Linked DNA regions of Homo sapiens: region 2 is linked to region 1. The links come from fine-mapping of genetic effects on gene expression. Tissue or cell type: stomach. Region 1 holds a variant in brackets; the other region holds the start of a gene. All regions are shown on one strand. Distances are between the middles of the regions.

Region 1 (7,773 bases):
TGTTTAAAAAAAAAAAAAAAAAAAAAGACTGTCCACGGACAAGTGACAGAAGGGAGTGTTTCTGACCTTCAATTTGTAGGATGGGCTGGGCATGGTGGCTCACAACTGTAATCCCAGCACTTTGGGAGGTCAAGGTGGGTGGATTGTCTGAGCTCAGGAGTTTGAGACCAGCCTGGGCAACATGAGGAGACCCCATCTATACAAAAAATAGAGAAATTGGCTGGGTGCGGTGGCTCAACGCCTGTAATCCCGGCACTTTGGGAGGCCAAAGCGGGTGGATCACTTGAGGTCAGGAGTTCGAGACCAGCCTGGCCAACATGGTGAAGCCCCGTCTCTACTAAAAATACAAAAAAATTAGCTGGGCATGGTGGCACATGCCTGTAGTCTCAGCTACTCGGGAGGCTGAGGCAGAAGAATCGCTTGAACCCAGGAGGCGGAGGTTGCAGTGAGCCGAGATCGCACCACTGCACTCCAGCCTGGCGACTGAGCAAGACTCTGTCTCAAAAAAAAAAAAAAAAAAAAAAAAAAAATATATATATATATATATATATAGAGAGAGAGAGAGAGAGAGAGAGAGAGAGAGAGAGATTAGCTGAGCATGGTGGCATGTGCCTGTATTCCCAACTCCAACTACTGGGGAGGCTGAGGTGGGAGGATCACTTGAGCCTAGGAGGTGGAGGCTGCAGCGAGCTGAGATCACGCCACTGCACTCCAGCCTGGGTGACAGAGCAAGACCCTGTCTCAATTAAAAAAAAAAAAGGGGGCCGGGCATGGTGGCTCACGCCTGTAATCCCAGCACTTTGGGAGGCCGAGGCGGGTGGATCACGAAGTCAAGAGATCGAGACCATCCTGGCCAACATGGTGAAGCCTCGTCTCTACTAAAAATACAAAAAATTAGCCAGGCATGGTGGCAGGCGCCTATAGTCCCAGCTACTCAGGAGGCTGAGGCAGAAGAATCACTTGAACCCAGGAGGTGAAGGTTGCAGTGAGCCAAGATTGCGCCACTGCACTCCAGCCTGGCGACAGAGTGAGACTCCGTCTCAAAAAAAAAGAAAAAATAGATTGTCTAGGGTCGAGTGAGAGAAGGGAGTGTAGAAGTTTGTCTGATCTTAAGTTTGTAGCATCATGAGATTGTTCAGGCTCAACCTGATGGGATGGGAGACTAAAGGGCATCTGGGCTTAGATTTGTGAGAACTAAGTTTGTTCACCACTGGGACCCTGAAGTTATCTGAACTTGGGACGGGAGAGAGGCAAATGGATAGCCGCGGAAGCATGAGATTGTCCTGTCTGACAGGGAGAAGCAAGGGATTGAGCGTATTCACGCTGAAGTACATGGCATGAGGTTGGCTGGATATTAGGAAAGGATGCTTGTGGTTGTTCAGGTGTTGAGTGTGAGGCCACAAGCTCGTGCAGGCTGGAAGTGGGAAGTTATTCAAGTTCATGGTGACAGCAGCATGGGATTGGCTGGGAGTGGTTGTGGGGGAGGGGTAGGGTGAGCAGGAAGTTGTTTGGCGGGGGGTGGTCTAGGGTGGTCTAAGTTTGCCCAAACTTTTACTGCAGGTTGTCGGTTTTGTTTGTTTTTGTTTTTTTTTTTTTGAGATGGAGTCTCGTGCTGTTGCCCAGGCTGGAGTGCAATGGCAGGATCTCGGCTCACCGCAACATCCACCTCCTGGGTTCAAGAGATTCTCCTGCCTCAGCCTTCCGAGTAGCTGGGATTACAGGCATGTGCCACCATGCCTAGCTCATTTTTTTGGTATTTTTAGTAGAGACGGGGTTTCACCATGTTGGCCAGACTGGTCTCGAATTCCTGACCTCAAGTGATCCACCCACTTCGGCCTCCCAAAGCGCTGGGATTACAGGCACGAGGCATCGCGCCCGGCCAGTTTGCTCAAACTTTTACTGCAGGTTGCCTTGTCTCTATGGTGAGGGGGAGAATATTAGGAGGTTGCCCAGGCTTATGATAAGGGAAGGCATGAGGTGGTGCAAGTTTTCAAGTGAGAAGTCGTCCAGGTTCCCAGTGACAGCAGAATGAGCTTGGCTTGGCAGTAGCTGCAGAGGGACCCATGGCTGTTCAGGTTCGCGGGTGAGTGGCAGGAGGCTCCCGGGTCCTCTGTGGGGGTGACACAAGGTTGTGAGGGCCTATTACCACCATCTCCACTCCTGACCAGTGCTCCTGATTCCTGACAATGCCAACGTCTTCTATGCCATGAGTCCAGTCGCCCCCAGAGACTTCATGCTGCGGCGGAAAGAGGGGACCCGGAACACTCTGTCTGTCTCCCCAAGCTGAGGCAGCCCTGTCCTCTCCACAAGACACAAGTCCCACAGGCAAGCTTGCGACTCTTCTCCTGGAAAGCTGCCATCCCCCAGTAGAGGCCACTGTGCTGTGTATCCCAGGACCACCACCCAACTGTAGCCCATTGGACCCCATCTCTTTTTCTGACTCTGTTGGTACTAGATCCATATTCCAAAGACATCAGCCCATGGGTGGCTGGTGGAGAGCTCAATCCCATAAATGTAGAAAGAGGTGGGGCATGGATACGTCAAATCCCTCCCCAGAGAAATCTTATAAATGTTAGAGACGCATCAGAAGTGACAGATGCGGATGAAAATAGTGACCAGAGTTATGAAACAGGTGTCAGTCTTGTTTATTTTGCGCCTGTGTGCCATGTTCACCCTTTATCAAGATAAAGGAAAACAGCTACCACACACACACCCACACACACACACACAAACACACAGAGAGAGAGAAACCTAAGAGCCAAGACCAGCCCGGGCAACATAACGAGATCCTGTCTCTACAAAAAATACAAAAATTTGGCTGGGCGTGGTGACTCACGCCTGTAATCCCAGCGTTTTGGGAGGCCAAGGCAGGCAGATCGCCTGAGGTCAGGAGTTCGAGACCAGCCTGGCCGACATGGCAAAACCCCATCTTCTAAAAGTACAAAAAATTAGCCGGGCGTGGTGTCATGCACCTGTAATCCCAGCTACTGGGGAGGCTGAGGCAGGAGAATTGCTTGAACCCGGAAGGTGGAGGTTGCAGTGAGTGGAAATCACACCACTGTACTCCAGCCTGGGTGACAGAGCAAGACCCTATCTCAAAAACAAACAAACAAACAAATGAACAAACAAAAAATTTTCTGAGTGTGGTGATATGAGACTGTAATCCTACCTACTTGGGAGGCTGAGCTGGGAGAATCACCAGAGCCCTGGGAGGTTGAAGCTGCAGTGAGCAGTGACTGGGCCCCTGCACTCCAACCTGGAGGACAGAGGGAGATCCTGTCTCAAAAACAAAAAAACTAAGAGCCCTAAGAAAGGTGTTGAGTCGGGTATGACACTCAACCCAGATGCCAGAGAGGATCCTGTCTGGCCGGACACAGTGGCTCAGGAGGGTAATCCCAGTACTTTGGGAGGCTGAGGTAAGAGGATTGCTTAAGTTCAGGAGTCCGAGAGCAGCCTGGGCAATACAGTGAGATCACATCTCACTAAATAAATAAATAAAGGATCCTATCACACAAAGAGGGTTTAGGACTTCCTTCCCCAACATTTTTGGGGTGATATGCCTCTTTTCTACTGTATATATGGGAGAGTGACTAACTGAAATTCCATCAGAATTAGAAACAAATAGCATCATTACCCATGAGTCAATAAGGGCTGTGAGGATGGGCCCTTTCACTTGCCCTCACCTTCTTCCTCTTCCTGTCACAGATAACCCATCTGTGCAAAGAAGAGAAAAAGAGGTTGGGTGTGGTGGCTCACATCTGTAATCCCAGCACTTTGGGAGGCTAAGGTGGAAGGATTTTGAGCCCAGGAGTTTGAGACCAGCCTGGGCAACATAGTGAGACCCCATTTCTACAAAAAAATACAAAGATTGGCCAGGCGCGGTGGCTCACGCCTGTAATCCCAGCACTTGGGAGGCTGAGGCAGGCGGATCATGAGGTCAGGAGATCGAGACCATCCTGGCTAGGTGAAACCCCGTCTCTACTAAAAATGCAAAAAAATTAGCCGGGCGTGGTGGCGGGCGCCTGTAGTCCCAGCTACTCGGGAGGCTGAGGCAGGAGAATGGCGTGAACCCAGGAGGCGGAGCTTGCAGCGAGCCGAGATCGCACCACTGCACTCCAGTCTGGGCGACAGAGGGAGACTCCATCTCAAAAAATAAAATAAAATTTAGCCAGGTTTGGTGTCCTGCACCTGTAGTCTCAGCTACTCTGGAGGCTGAAGCACGAGGATCACTTGAGCCCAAGAGGTGGAGGTTGCAGTGAGCCGAGATTACTGCACTCCAGCCTGGGTGACAGAGCGAGATCCTGTTTCAAAAAGCAAAAAAAAGGGCCAGGCGCAGTGCTCACACCTGTAATCCCATCATTTTGGGAGGCTGAGGTGGGCGGATCACTTGAGGTCAGGAGTTCAAGGTCAGCCTGGCCAACATGGTAAAACCCTGTCCCTACTAAAAAATATAAAAATTAGCTGGGCATGGTGGTGGGTGCCTGTAATCCCAGTTACTCAGGAGGCTGAGGCAGGAGAATTGCTTGAATCCAGAAGGTGGAGGTTGCAGTGAACCGAGATCATGCCATTGCACTCCAGCCTGCGTGACAAAGTGAGACTGTATCTCAAAAAAAAAAAAAAAAATGCTGGGCACAGTGGCTCTAGCACTTTGGGGGGGCAAGACGGGTGGATTGCTTGAGGCCAGGATTCCAAAACCAGCCTGGCCAACATGGTGAAAC[C/T]CCTTCTCTACTAAATATACAAAAAATTAGCCGGGCATGGTGGCAGGCTCTTGTAATCCCAGCTACTCGGTAGGCTGAGGCAGGATAATCACCTGAACCAGGCAGGCAGAGGTTGCAGTGAGTCGAGATCGCTCCACTGCACTCCGGCCTGGGCAACAAGAGCAAAATTCTGTCTGGAAAAAAAAAAAAAAGAAAAAGAAAAGGATTGTGAGGATGAAAAGAGAGGCGTGAGCTCTCTGTCAGCGTTGGAGTACAATAGAGAGGATGAAATGAGCTGTAGGGCGAACTGCTACATAGTCACAACCACAATAATATGCCCACTTATGAGCTCCTACTCAGCAGAGAACATCAGCTATGGTCTTTACATCTCATTGCACTAATCGAGTTCTTTCTGTTGCAAGCGACCAAAAACCCAATTCAAAGAGGCATGTGCAAAAAAGGACATTTGTGGCTTATGCAGTTGAAATGTCCAATGAGTAGGGCTTCAGGCACAGTTGCATCCAGGCACTCATAAGATGTCATCAGGGTTTTCTTGCTGTCTCTTTGCTCTGATTTGCTCTGAGAATGAGATAGTCCATTGTCCCCTCAAATTTAATCACCTTCTTCTATGGTAATGGAACCACTGATTTTTAGCTGGCCTCCCAAAGTAAAAGCCATATTTCCCACCTCCTCTGCAGCAAGGTGTGGTCATATCTGGCCACTGGCTAAGTCTTGGCCAATAAGATATAAAGGGAAAGGATGTGAACAAATTTCAGAACCTGCCCTTAAAGGGAAGCGGTGTGTCCTTCTTTTCCCCCTTTCCTCCCTCCTGCTGGTGGGAATGAAGACGTGGAGTGGATCATTTTGGATTAGGTGGTTCACACTGTCTGAATAGCTGAGCAACAAGCTAGAAGGAGCCTGGGCCTATGAGACCAGGGAGCTACCATATTGGACTGTTGATACTTGGAGTGTTACATAAAAGAGAAATAAATTTTTATCTTACTTAAGCCACTATTATTTGAGTTGCTGTTACAGTAGCCCAAATAATATTTTATTTAATATAGCTGTACTCATAGCTGGGTGTGGTGGCATGCACCTGTAATCCCAGCTACTTGGGAGGCTGAGGCGAGAGAATTGCTTGAACCTGGAAGGCGGAGGTTGCAGTGAGCCGAGATCGCTCCACTGCACTCCAGCCTGGGAGACAGAGCAAGACTCCGTCTCTACAAAAAAAAAAAAAAAAAAAAAAATACACACACATATATATATATATAGCTCTACTCCAAGGCAGGCTCATACCTTGTGGAGGCATAGGCTTATATCCCAACAGCTCCCCCATCCCATGCAAGCAGAGCCCCTCCTTCCCATCAGCTCCAGCAAAAAGTCCCAGAGCAGGCGCCCATTGGGCCAATTTGTGTCATGTGTCCACCTCTAAACCAATCACTGTGTTCAGGGGAATGAGATGTGCTGATTAGCCAGGCCTGGGTCCTGCGCCCACCCTTTGAGCTGGCACAGAAACTTTGAATCACAGGGGTGGAGCCTGGGAGAGTCCATAAGTGGACATTAAATGTGGGGGCTGTTATGAGGAGAAGGGGGAGTTCTGGTGAATGGGCAAAAAATAATCACTAGGTTTTCAAACATTATCCCTGGAGCAATAATGAGGAATGCCCAGGAATTATGTGGGTTGGGAGTAGAGATACAGAAATTTAAGTATCATATAAGGTCTGATGAAAGACCAATTACTAGCACACAACATGCTTTTTTTTTTTTTTTTTTTTGAGACAGAGTCTTGCTTTGTCGCCCAGGCTGGAGTGCAATGGCGAGAACTTGGCTTACTGCAACTTCCGCCTCCCCAGTTCAAGCGATTCTCCTGTCTCAGCCTCTTGAGTAGGTAGGATAACAGGCGTGTGTCACCACGCCTGGCTAATTTTTGTATTTTTAGTAGAGACGGGGTTTCACCATTTTGGTCAGGCTGGTCTCGAACTCCTGGCCTGATGATCCACCTGCCTTGGCCTCCCAAAATGCTGGGATTACAGGTGTGAGCCACTGTGCCTTGCCGCTCCTTTACAGGCTTTTTTTAAATTTTGGTCTTCTGTGAGTATTAAGACCTTAAGACCAGCCAGGCACAGTGGCTTATGCCTGTAATCCAGCACTTTGGGAGGCCGAGTCAGGTGGATCATGAGGTCAGGAGTTCGAGACCAGCCTGACCAACATGGTGAAACCCCATCCCTACTAAAAATACAAAAATTAGCCAGGCGTGGTGGTGCACGCCTGTAATCCCAGCTACTCAGGAGACTGAGGCAGGACAGAATCGCTTGAACCCGGGAGTCGGAGGTTGCAGTGAGCCGAGATTGCACCACTGTACGCCAGCCTGGGTGACAAAGAAAGACTTTGTCTCAAAAAAAAAAAAAAAAAGAAAAGAAAAGAAAAAGAAAAGAAAGACCTTAAGACAATTTGGATATTTTTTGCCCAAATGGGTATTTTTTTCCTCTGTCTCCCAAATCCCAAAGTGTTGGGATTACAGGCATGAGCCACCGCATCCAGCCTCTTAAGATCATTTGGATGTTAGTTCAGCATCCTTCTTGAACTAGTTTAAGCAAATTGCTATACTTACTGAATGCTTATTGTATGTCAAGATACTGTTTTAAGAACTTGACACAGGGGCCAGGCGCGGTGGCTCACGCCTGTAATCCCAACACTTTGGGAGGCCGAGGCGGGCGGATCACCTGAGGTCAGGAGTTCGAGACCAGCCTCAACATGGAGAAACCCGTCTCTACTAAAAATACAAAATTAGCGGAGTGTGGTGGTACATGCCTGTAATCCCAGCTATTCGGGAGGCTGAGGCAGGAGAATCACTTGAACCTGGGAGGCGGAGGTTGCAGTGAGCCGAGATTGTGCCATTGCACTCCAGCCTGGGTGACAAGAGCGAAACTCCATCTCAAAAAAAAAGAAAAAGAAAAAGAACTTGACACAATCTAATTTAATCCTTACCATAGCTCTATGGAGTAGACATTATTTTCACTTTATACATTTTATTTATTTATTTACTTATTTATTTATTTTTAGAGACAGTGTCTTG
Region 2 (5,912 bases), 26 kb before region 1:
ATAACTATGTGCCAAACCTGCTGGGCCTCGTGGAGGAAAAGCTGCTGAAACTGCAGGCGCAGCTCCAGGGCCACGACGTGCAGGAGATGCTGTGCCACATCGCTAACCGCGAGGTGCCCTGCAGCCATGGGGCAGAGCTCCAGAGATCTAGGAGTAGGGCTGGGTCGGAAAACCAGGGAACCGGGGGCAACTTCGGGAGACCAGATTGCAGGCTGATCAGCCAGGAAGGGGTCTCGGGGACAACGGGCGAGGTTTGACGAGCCAGGGGTGAGCCCGAGCCACGAGGGAAGAAACCAGAAGAGGTGCAGGCGGGTCCTGTGAGGCTAGAGGACGCGGCTGGGGTATCCGGATGGGGAGAGGCCTAGTGGCAGGGCCCCAGAGACCAGGGGCGGACCTGAGTGATGAGGGGGTGAAGCTGGGTATCAAGGTGCCTGCTTAAGGAGGGATGGGAGTGGGCAGTGGTCTCCAGTTGGAACTAGGGCATATCTCGGAATGGGGTAGGGAGGAGGGGGAACGTGACTTCTCGGTGGCCCCTGGCCCCGCCCACCTTCCTCTCTCGCTTCCCATCCCCGCTTAGTTCCTCGCCAGCTTAGAGGGAAGGCTGCCCGAATACAACACCCGCATCGCCCTGCCCCTTGCCACTTCCAAGGACAAGTTTTTTGGTCAGTATGGGTGGGGGGATGAAGGGGTGCGGTTGGGGCCCCAAGCTGGGTAGCAGGAGGTTGTCAGATACCCTGTTCAGGGCCAAGGTGGGGGTGGAGTGGGGTGGTAAAGGGAAGGGGAGCCAGGGATGGGGACCTGGATCCCACATCGCTCCCTGCTCATCCCCCCACCCCCCTTAGACGAAGAGAGTGAGGAGGAGGACAACGAGGTAGTGACCCGCGCATCACTCAAGATCCGTTCCCAGAAATTAATCGAAAGTCACAAGAAGCACCGTCGCTCTCGGAGGTCCTAGACTCGTCCTGACACCCACCAGGCGGCCCCCTTCGGAGCCCCCGATCCCTCCGGGTCTAGCGCAGGCCCCACGGGGCCCCTTCAGGGGCTGAACGCGGCCCGGACCGGGAACGGAGGCGGCCAGCGGCGCCCGGAGGGGAGGAAGGGGCCGGGCCAGACGTTCCCACAGTAAATCTCCCCAGCTGGGTCCGCCCCGGCCTCAGAGTTGCGCAATAAATGTTACCGACCATGCCCCTGGGTATTCATCTGTTTTTGACCCTGCACCACCCAAGAGACGGCTGTCCCTGAAAACCCAGGGCCACAGACTGCCTCCTCCAACCTGGGTCATGATGACTCCCATCAGCTAGTGACGCAGATGGAGCTTAAAAATGGGAGATGGCCCGATGTAGTGGTTTTATGCCTGTAATCCCAGTATTTTGGGAGGCTGAGTTGGGAGGATCACTTGAGTCCAGGAGCTCCAGGCTGCAGTGAGCTATGATCGTGCTACTGCACTCCAGCCTGGGCCACAGAGCCAGACCCTGTCTCAATAAATAAAATAAGGGCGGGGTGCAGTGGCTCATTCATACCTATATTCCCAGCACTTTGGGAGGCTGAGCTGGGTGTGTCGCTTGAGCCCAGGGGTTCCAGACTAGCCTGGGCAACATGGTGAAAACCAGTTTTTACCAAAAAAAAAAAAAAAAAAAAAAAAAAAAAAAAAAAAGCTGAGCATGGTGGCATATGCCTGTAGTCCCAGCTACTTGGGAGACTGAGGCAGGAGAATGGATTGAACCCAGGAGGCGGAGATTGCAGTGAGCCAAGATCAAGCCACTGCACTGCAGCCTTGGCAACAGGAGTGAGACCCTGTCTCTAAAAAATAATAAGGCTGGGCGCCGTGGTTCATGCCTGTAATCCCAGCATTTTGGGAGGCTGAGGTGGGCGAATCTCTTGAGGCCAGGAGTTTGAGACCAGCCTGGCAAGTATGGCAAAACCCCGCCTCTACAAAAAATACAAAAATTAGCTGAGCATGGTGGCGGCACCTGTAATCCTAGCTACTTGGGAGGCTGAGGCACAAGAATCCTTTGAATCTGGGAGGCGGAGGTTGCAGTGAGTTAAGATCAAGCCACTGTACTCCAGCATGGGTGACAGAACGAGACTCCATCTCAAAATAATAGCAATAATAATAAAAAGTGGAAGATGCCCCCACACTTGATCAAGCTAGCCCCTTCCACTGGAGGACAGAGGACTCTGGTCTGGGGACACACACATGCCCCCACACAGGAGCTCCCCCACATCTGGGGATACAAAAAAGACCCCTTGGGGACAGATATGTCCTTTCTTCTGGGGACAGATTGATAGGCACCCAGCGGAAGAGCCAGGACCTCTCCTGGGCTGGCGCTGGGTCCGGCTGGAGGCACCCAGAGGCTGGGTCCGGCCTGCCCTGCCCCGCCCCGCCCCAGCAGCTCGGCCGCTCCGCCCCTCTGGCCTCAGCGCCCGGCCACTGCCCGCCGCCCGCCACCCGCCACCCGCCGGCCCTTCCGCCTCACTCAGCGGCGCCACTGAGAGGGACGGGCGCCGGCCATGGAGCGCACAGCAGGCAAAGAGCTGGCCCTGGTAAGGGGACAAGGGATCCCCGGACCCCGCATCCCTGGTGACCCGCAGGTCCAGAAACTCCAAGCGCCCGCCCGTCGGACGGTATCTGCTCCCAATCTGAACTTGCCCTGGAGTCCCCTCCTGGGGACTCGCGGCCCTTGACCCAGTGAAGCGACTGGTTCCTCTTAGGGATGGGGGCGCGAGTCTCTGAGCGCAGTCGGCAGAAAGAGCTAGAGACAGGTTCTATTAGACTGGGCCCTGGGACATCCCCAAATGCCACCCCATGTCCTCAGGACCTGGGAGGAGGGGACCCGCAGCGAGGAGGGGACTAGCCTGGGACCCCAGCCCTAGTCTCGCAGCTTCTGGCCGGGAAGGGGCGTGGGGATGCAGCAGGAGGACTCGGCCCGAGTCCGAGCGGCCAAGGAGGCTGAGGCCCCAGGACCTGTGCCCCTTTGGTGCCCTGAGTCCGCCTGTGCGTCCAGGCACCGCTGCAGGACTGGGGTGAAGAGACCGAGGACGGCGCGGTGTACAGTGTCTCCCTGCGGCGGCAGCGCAGTCAGCGCAGGAGCCCGGCGGAGGGCCCCGGGGGCAGCCAGGTGAGGAGGGGGTTTGGTGGGTGGCGCGGGGCCGGAAGCGACCAGTTGAGGGCGGAGCTGGAGAGCCGAGCACAGGCCGCCAGGTGCAGTGGGCGGAAGGAAGGGAGGGGCTCGGAGGCGACCAGATGAGGCGACCAGGTAGAAAGGGGACTGGGGGCGGCCAGGTAAGTGGGGGGAGATCCAGGGAATGGGGTGGGGCCAGGCGATGGCCGCGCAGTTCCCGAGAGGAGCCTAGGGACAACTTGGTAAGGACAGAACTGGACGGCAGAGTTGGGAAAGGCAGGTTTAGAGGGCCGGGGCTGGAAGGTGGAATGGGGTTGGTTTAGAAGTGGCTAGGTGAGGGCGGATGGGGCAGCCAGTGAAGCGCGACAGGAGGGCTGAGGGAAGCCCTGGGTGGAAAAGAGTGTGTGGGGCGGGGGCGGGGGGGTGGGGGGAGGGGACGGGAGGGGGAGGGGACGGGAGAGGGAGTAGGGGACAGGGCATGGGAGAGGGAGGGTTTCCAGGGCAAGTTGCAGGAGCTATTTGTGGATGGGGAGGAACAATAACTTCAAGCGGGCAGGGAGTGGGGCACACACCTATAATCCCTGCGCTTCGAGAGACCAAGGCAGAAGGCCAGGAATTGGAGACCAGCCTGGACAACACAGCAAGATTCTCTCTAATAAAAATAAAAATTAAAAAACTAGCTGTGCGTGATGATGCCCAGCAGTGGTCCCAGCTACTCAGGAGGCTGGGGCAGAGGGACCGCTTGAGTCTAGGACTTGGAGGCTGCAGTGAGCTATGATTGTGCCACTGCACCCCAGCCTGGGCAACAAAACAAGACCTGTTTCTAAAAAAAACAAACCAAAACAATAACTCCAAGAAGCCGGGAGACAGAGGAATCACATGAAAGAATGGTGCTACAGGCGGGGCGAGGTGGCTCACGCCTGTAATCCCAGCACTTTGGGAGGCCGAGGCAAGTGGATCATCAGGTCAGGAGTTCAAGACCAACCTGGCCAAGACGGTGAAACACCGTCTCTACTAAAAATACGAAAAAACTAGCTGGGCTTGGTGGCGGGTGCCTGTAATCCCAGATACTTGGGAGGCTGAGGCAGAGAATTGCTTGAACCCAGGAGGCGGAGGTTGCAGTGAGCCAAGATCACGCCACTGAACTCCAGCCTAGGTGACAGAGTGAGATTCTGTCTCAAAAAAAAAAAAAAAAAAGTGGTGCTAGGGGCTGGGCACGGTGGTTCACGCCTGTAATCCTAGCCCTTTGGGAGACTTTGGGAGGCCAAGGGGGGCAGATTACTTGAGGTCAGGAGTTCGAGACCAGTCTGACCAACATGGTGAAACCCTATCTCTACAAAAATACAAAAATTAGCTGGGCTTGGTGGTGTGCGCCTGTAGTTTCAGCTACTTGGAGGCTGAGGAAGGAGGATTGCTTGAACCCAGGAGGCAGAAGTTGAAGTGACCCAAGATCGTGCCACTGCACTCCAGCCTGGGCAACAGAGTGAGACTCTGTCTCAAAAAAAAAAACAAAAAAAAAAAGAGTGGTGCTAGTGATGAATGTGACTAGAGAAGGGGTGCTGTGAGGACCACTCCTGCTCTCTCATGGCCACCTCTCCCCTCCTGCAGGCTCCCAGCCCCATTGCCAATACCTTCCTCCACTATCGAACCAGCAAGGTGAGGGTGCTGAGGGCAGCGCGCCTGGAGCGGCTGGTGGGAGAGTTGGTGTTTGGAGACCGTGAGCAGGACCCCAGCTTCATGCCCGCCTTCCTGGCCACCTACCGGACCTTTGTACCCACTGCCTGCCTGCTGGGCTTTCTGCTGCCACCAATGCCACCGCCCCCACCTCCCGGGTCAGTAGCGAACCATAACCTCCGTATTCTCCACCCTAGAACCCCAACTGGGCACCCCCCTCCACCTCCTCAGGTGTGGAACCTGGAAACACCTCCCAGACCCAGAGCCCTCTTCCTAAGCCCCCTCTAGGTTCCCCCTTCTTCACCTGCTGGGGGGCCTCTTCCCAGGGTAGAGATCAAGAAGACAGCGGTACAAGATCTGAGCTTCAACAAGAACCTGAGGTGGGTCCTTCATCCAGATAGGGGAGTGCGGGGAGGGAAATCCAAGAGGTCAAAGGTTAGCAGTCGGACTGGGGTTTTGAAAATTGCAGGTTGGGTAATAAGAGACTGGGAGTCAGGTGGGGCGTGGTGGCTCATGCCTGTAATCCCAACACTTTGGGAGGCCGAGGCAGGTGGATCACTGGAGGTCAGGAGTTAGAGACCATCCTGGCCAATATGGCGAAACCCTGTCTCTACTAAAAATACAACAACAACAAAAAAAGGTAGCTGGGTGTGGTGGCGCATGCCTGTAGTCCCAGCTACTCGGGAGGCTGAGGTTGCAGTGAGTCAAGATCAGGCCATTGCACTGCAGCCTTGGTGACACAGTAAGACTCTATCTCAAAAAAAAAAAAAAAAAAAAGGTACCAGGAGTCATATTCTATGTCCCCCACTCTGGACCCAGCTCTGAGACCCTGCCTCTCTGGCCAGGGCTGTGGTGTCAGTGCTGGGCTCCTGGCTGCAGGACCACCCTCAGGATTTCCGAGACCACCCTGCCCATTCGGACCTGGGCAGTGTCCGAACCTTTCTGGGCTGGGCGGCCCCAGGGAGTGCTGAGGCTCAAAAAGCAGAGAAGCTTCTGGAAGATTTTTTGGAGGAGGCTGAGCGAGAGCAGGAAGAGGAGCCGCCTCAGGTGTGGACAGGTGAGGGGTTTTCAGATCCAGTCGTGTTCTGAGAAGGCCTTTCCTGTCTGCTTCTTCCC

The links. PIP is the estimated chance that this variant, and not a neighbour inherited with it, causes the effect.
Region 2: RGL3 starts here. The variant in region 1 is fine-mapped to the expression of RGL3 in stomach (GTEx, PIP 0.91).

What each region holds. Positions count from the first base shown.
Region 1 is chr19:11,388,916-11,396,688 of GRCh38, reverse strand. It overlaps RGL3 (ral guanine nucleotide dissociation stimulator like 3), which reads left to right. Exons shown (of 19, transcript NM_001035223.4): 19 at 2,169-2,629. The coding sequence ends at 2,287. Among named protein-coding and RNA genes, the nearest start is that of EPOR, 8.5 kb to the right of the region's middle. The variant C/T (reference allele first, on the strand shown) is at 4,719.
Region 2 is chr19:11,415,878-11,421,789 of GRCh38, reverse strand. It overlaps RGL3 (ral guanine nucleotide dissociation stimulator like 3), which reads left to right and starts at 2,476. Exons shown (of 19, transcript NM_001035223.4): 1 at 2,476-2,544; 2 at 3,006-3,119; 3 at 4,731-4,954; 4 at 5,123-5,176; 5 at 5,642-5,853. The coding sequence starts at 2,512. ODAD3 (outer dynein arm docking complex subunit 3) reads left to right here. Exons shown (of 13, transcript NM_145045.5): 11 at 1-113; 12 at 578-662; 13 at 843-1,185. The coding sequence ends at 955. RefSeq lists an enhancer at 367-416.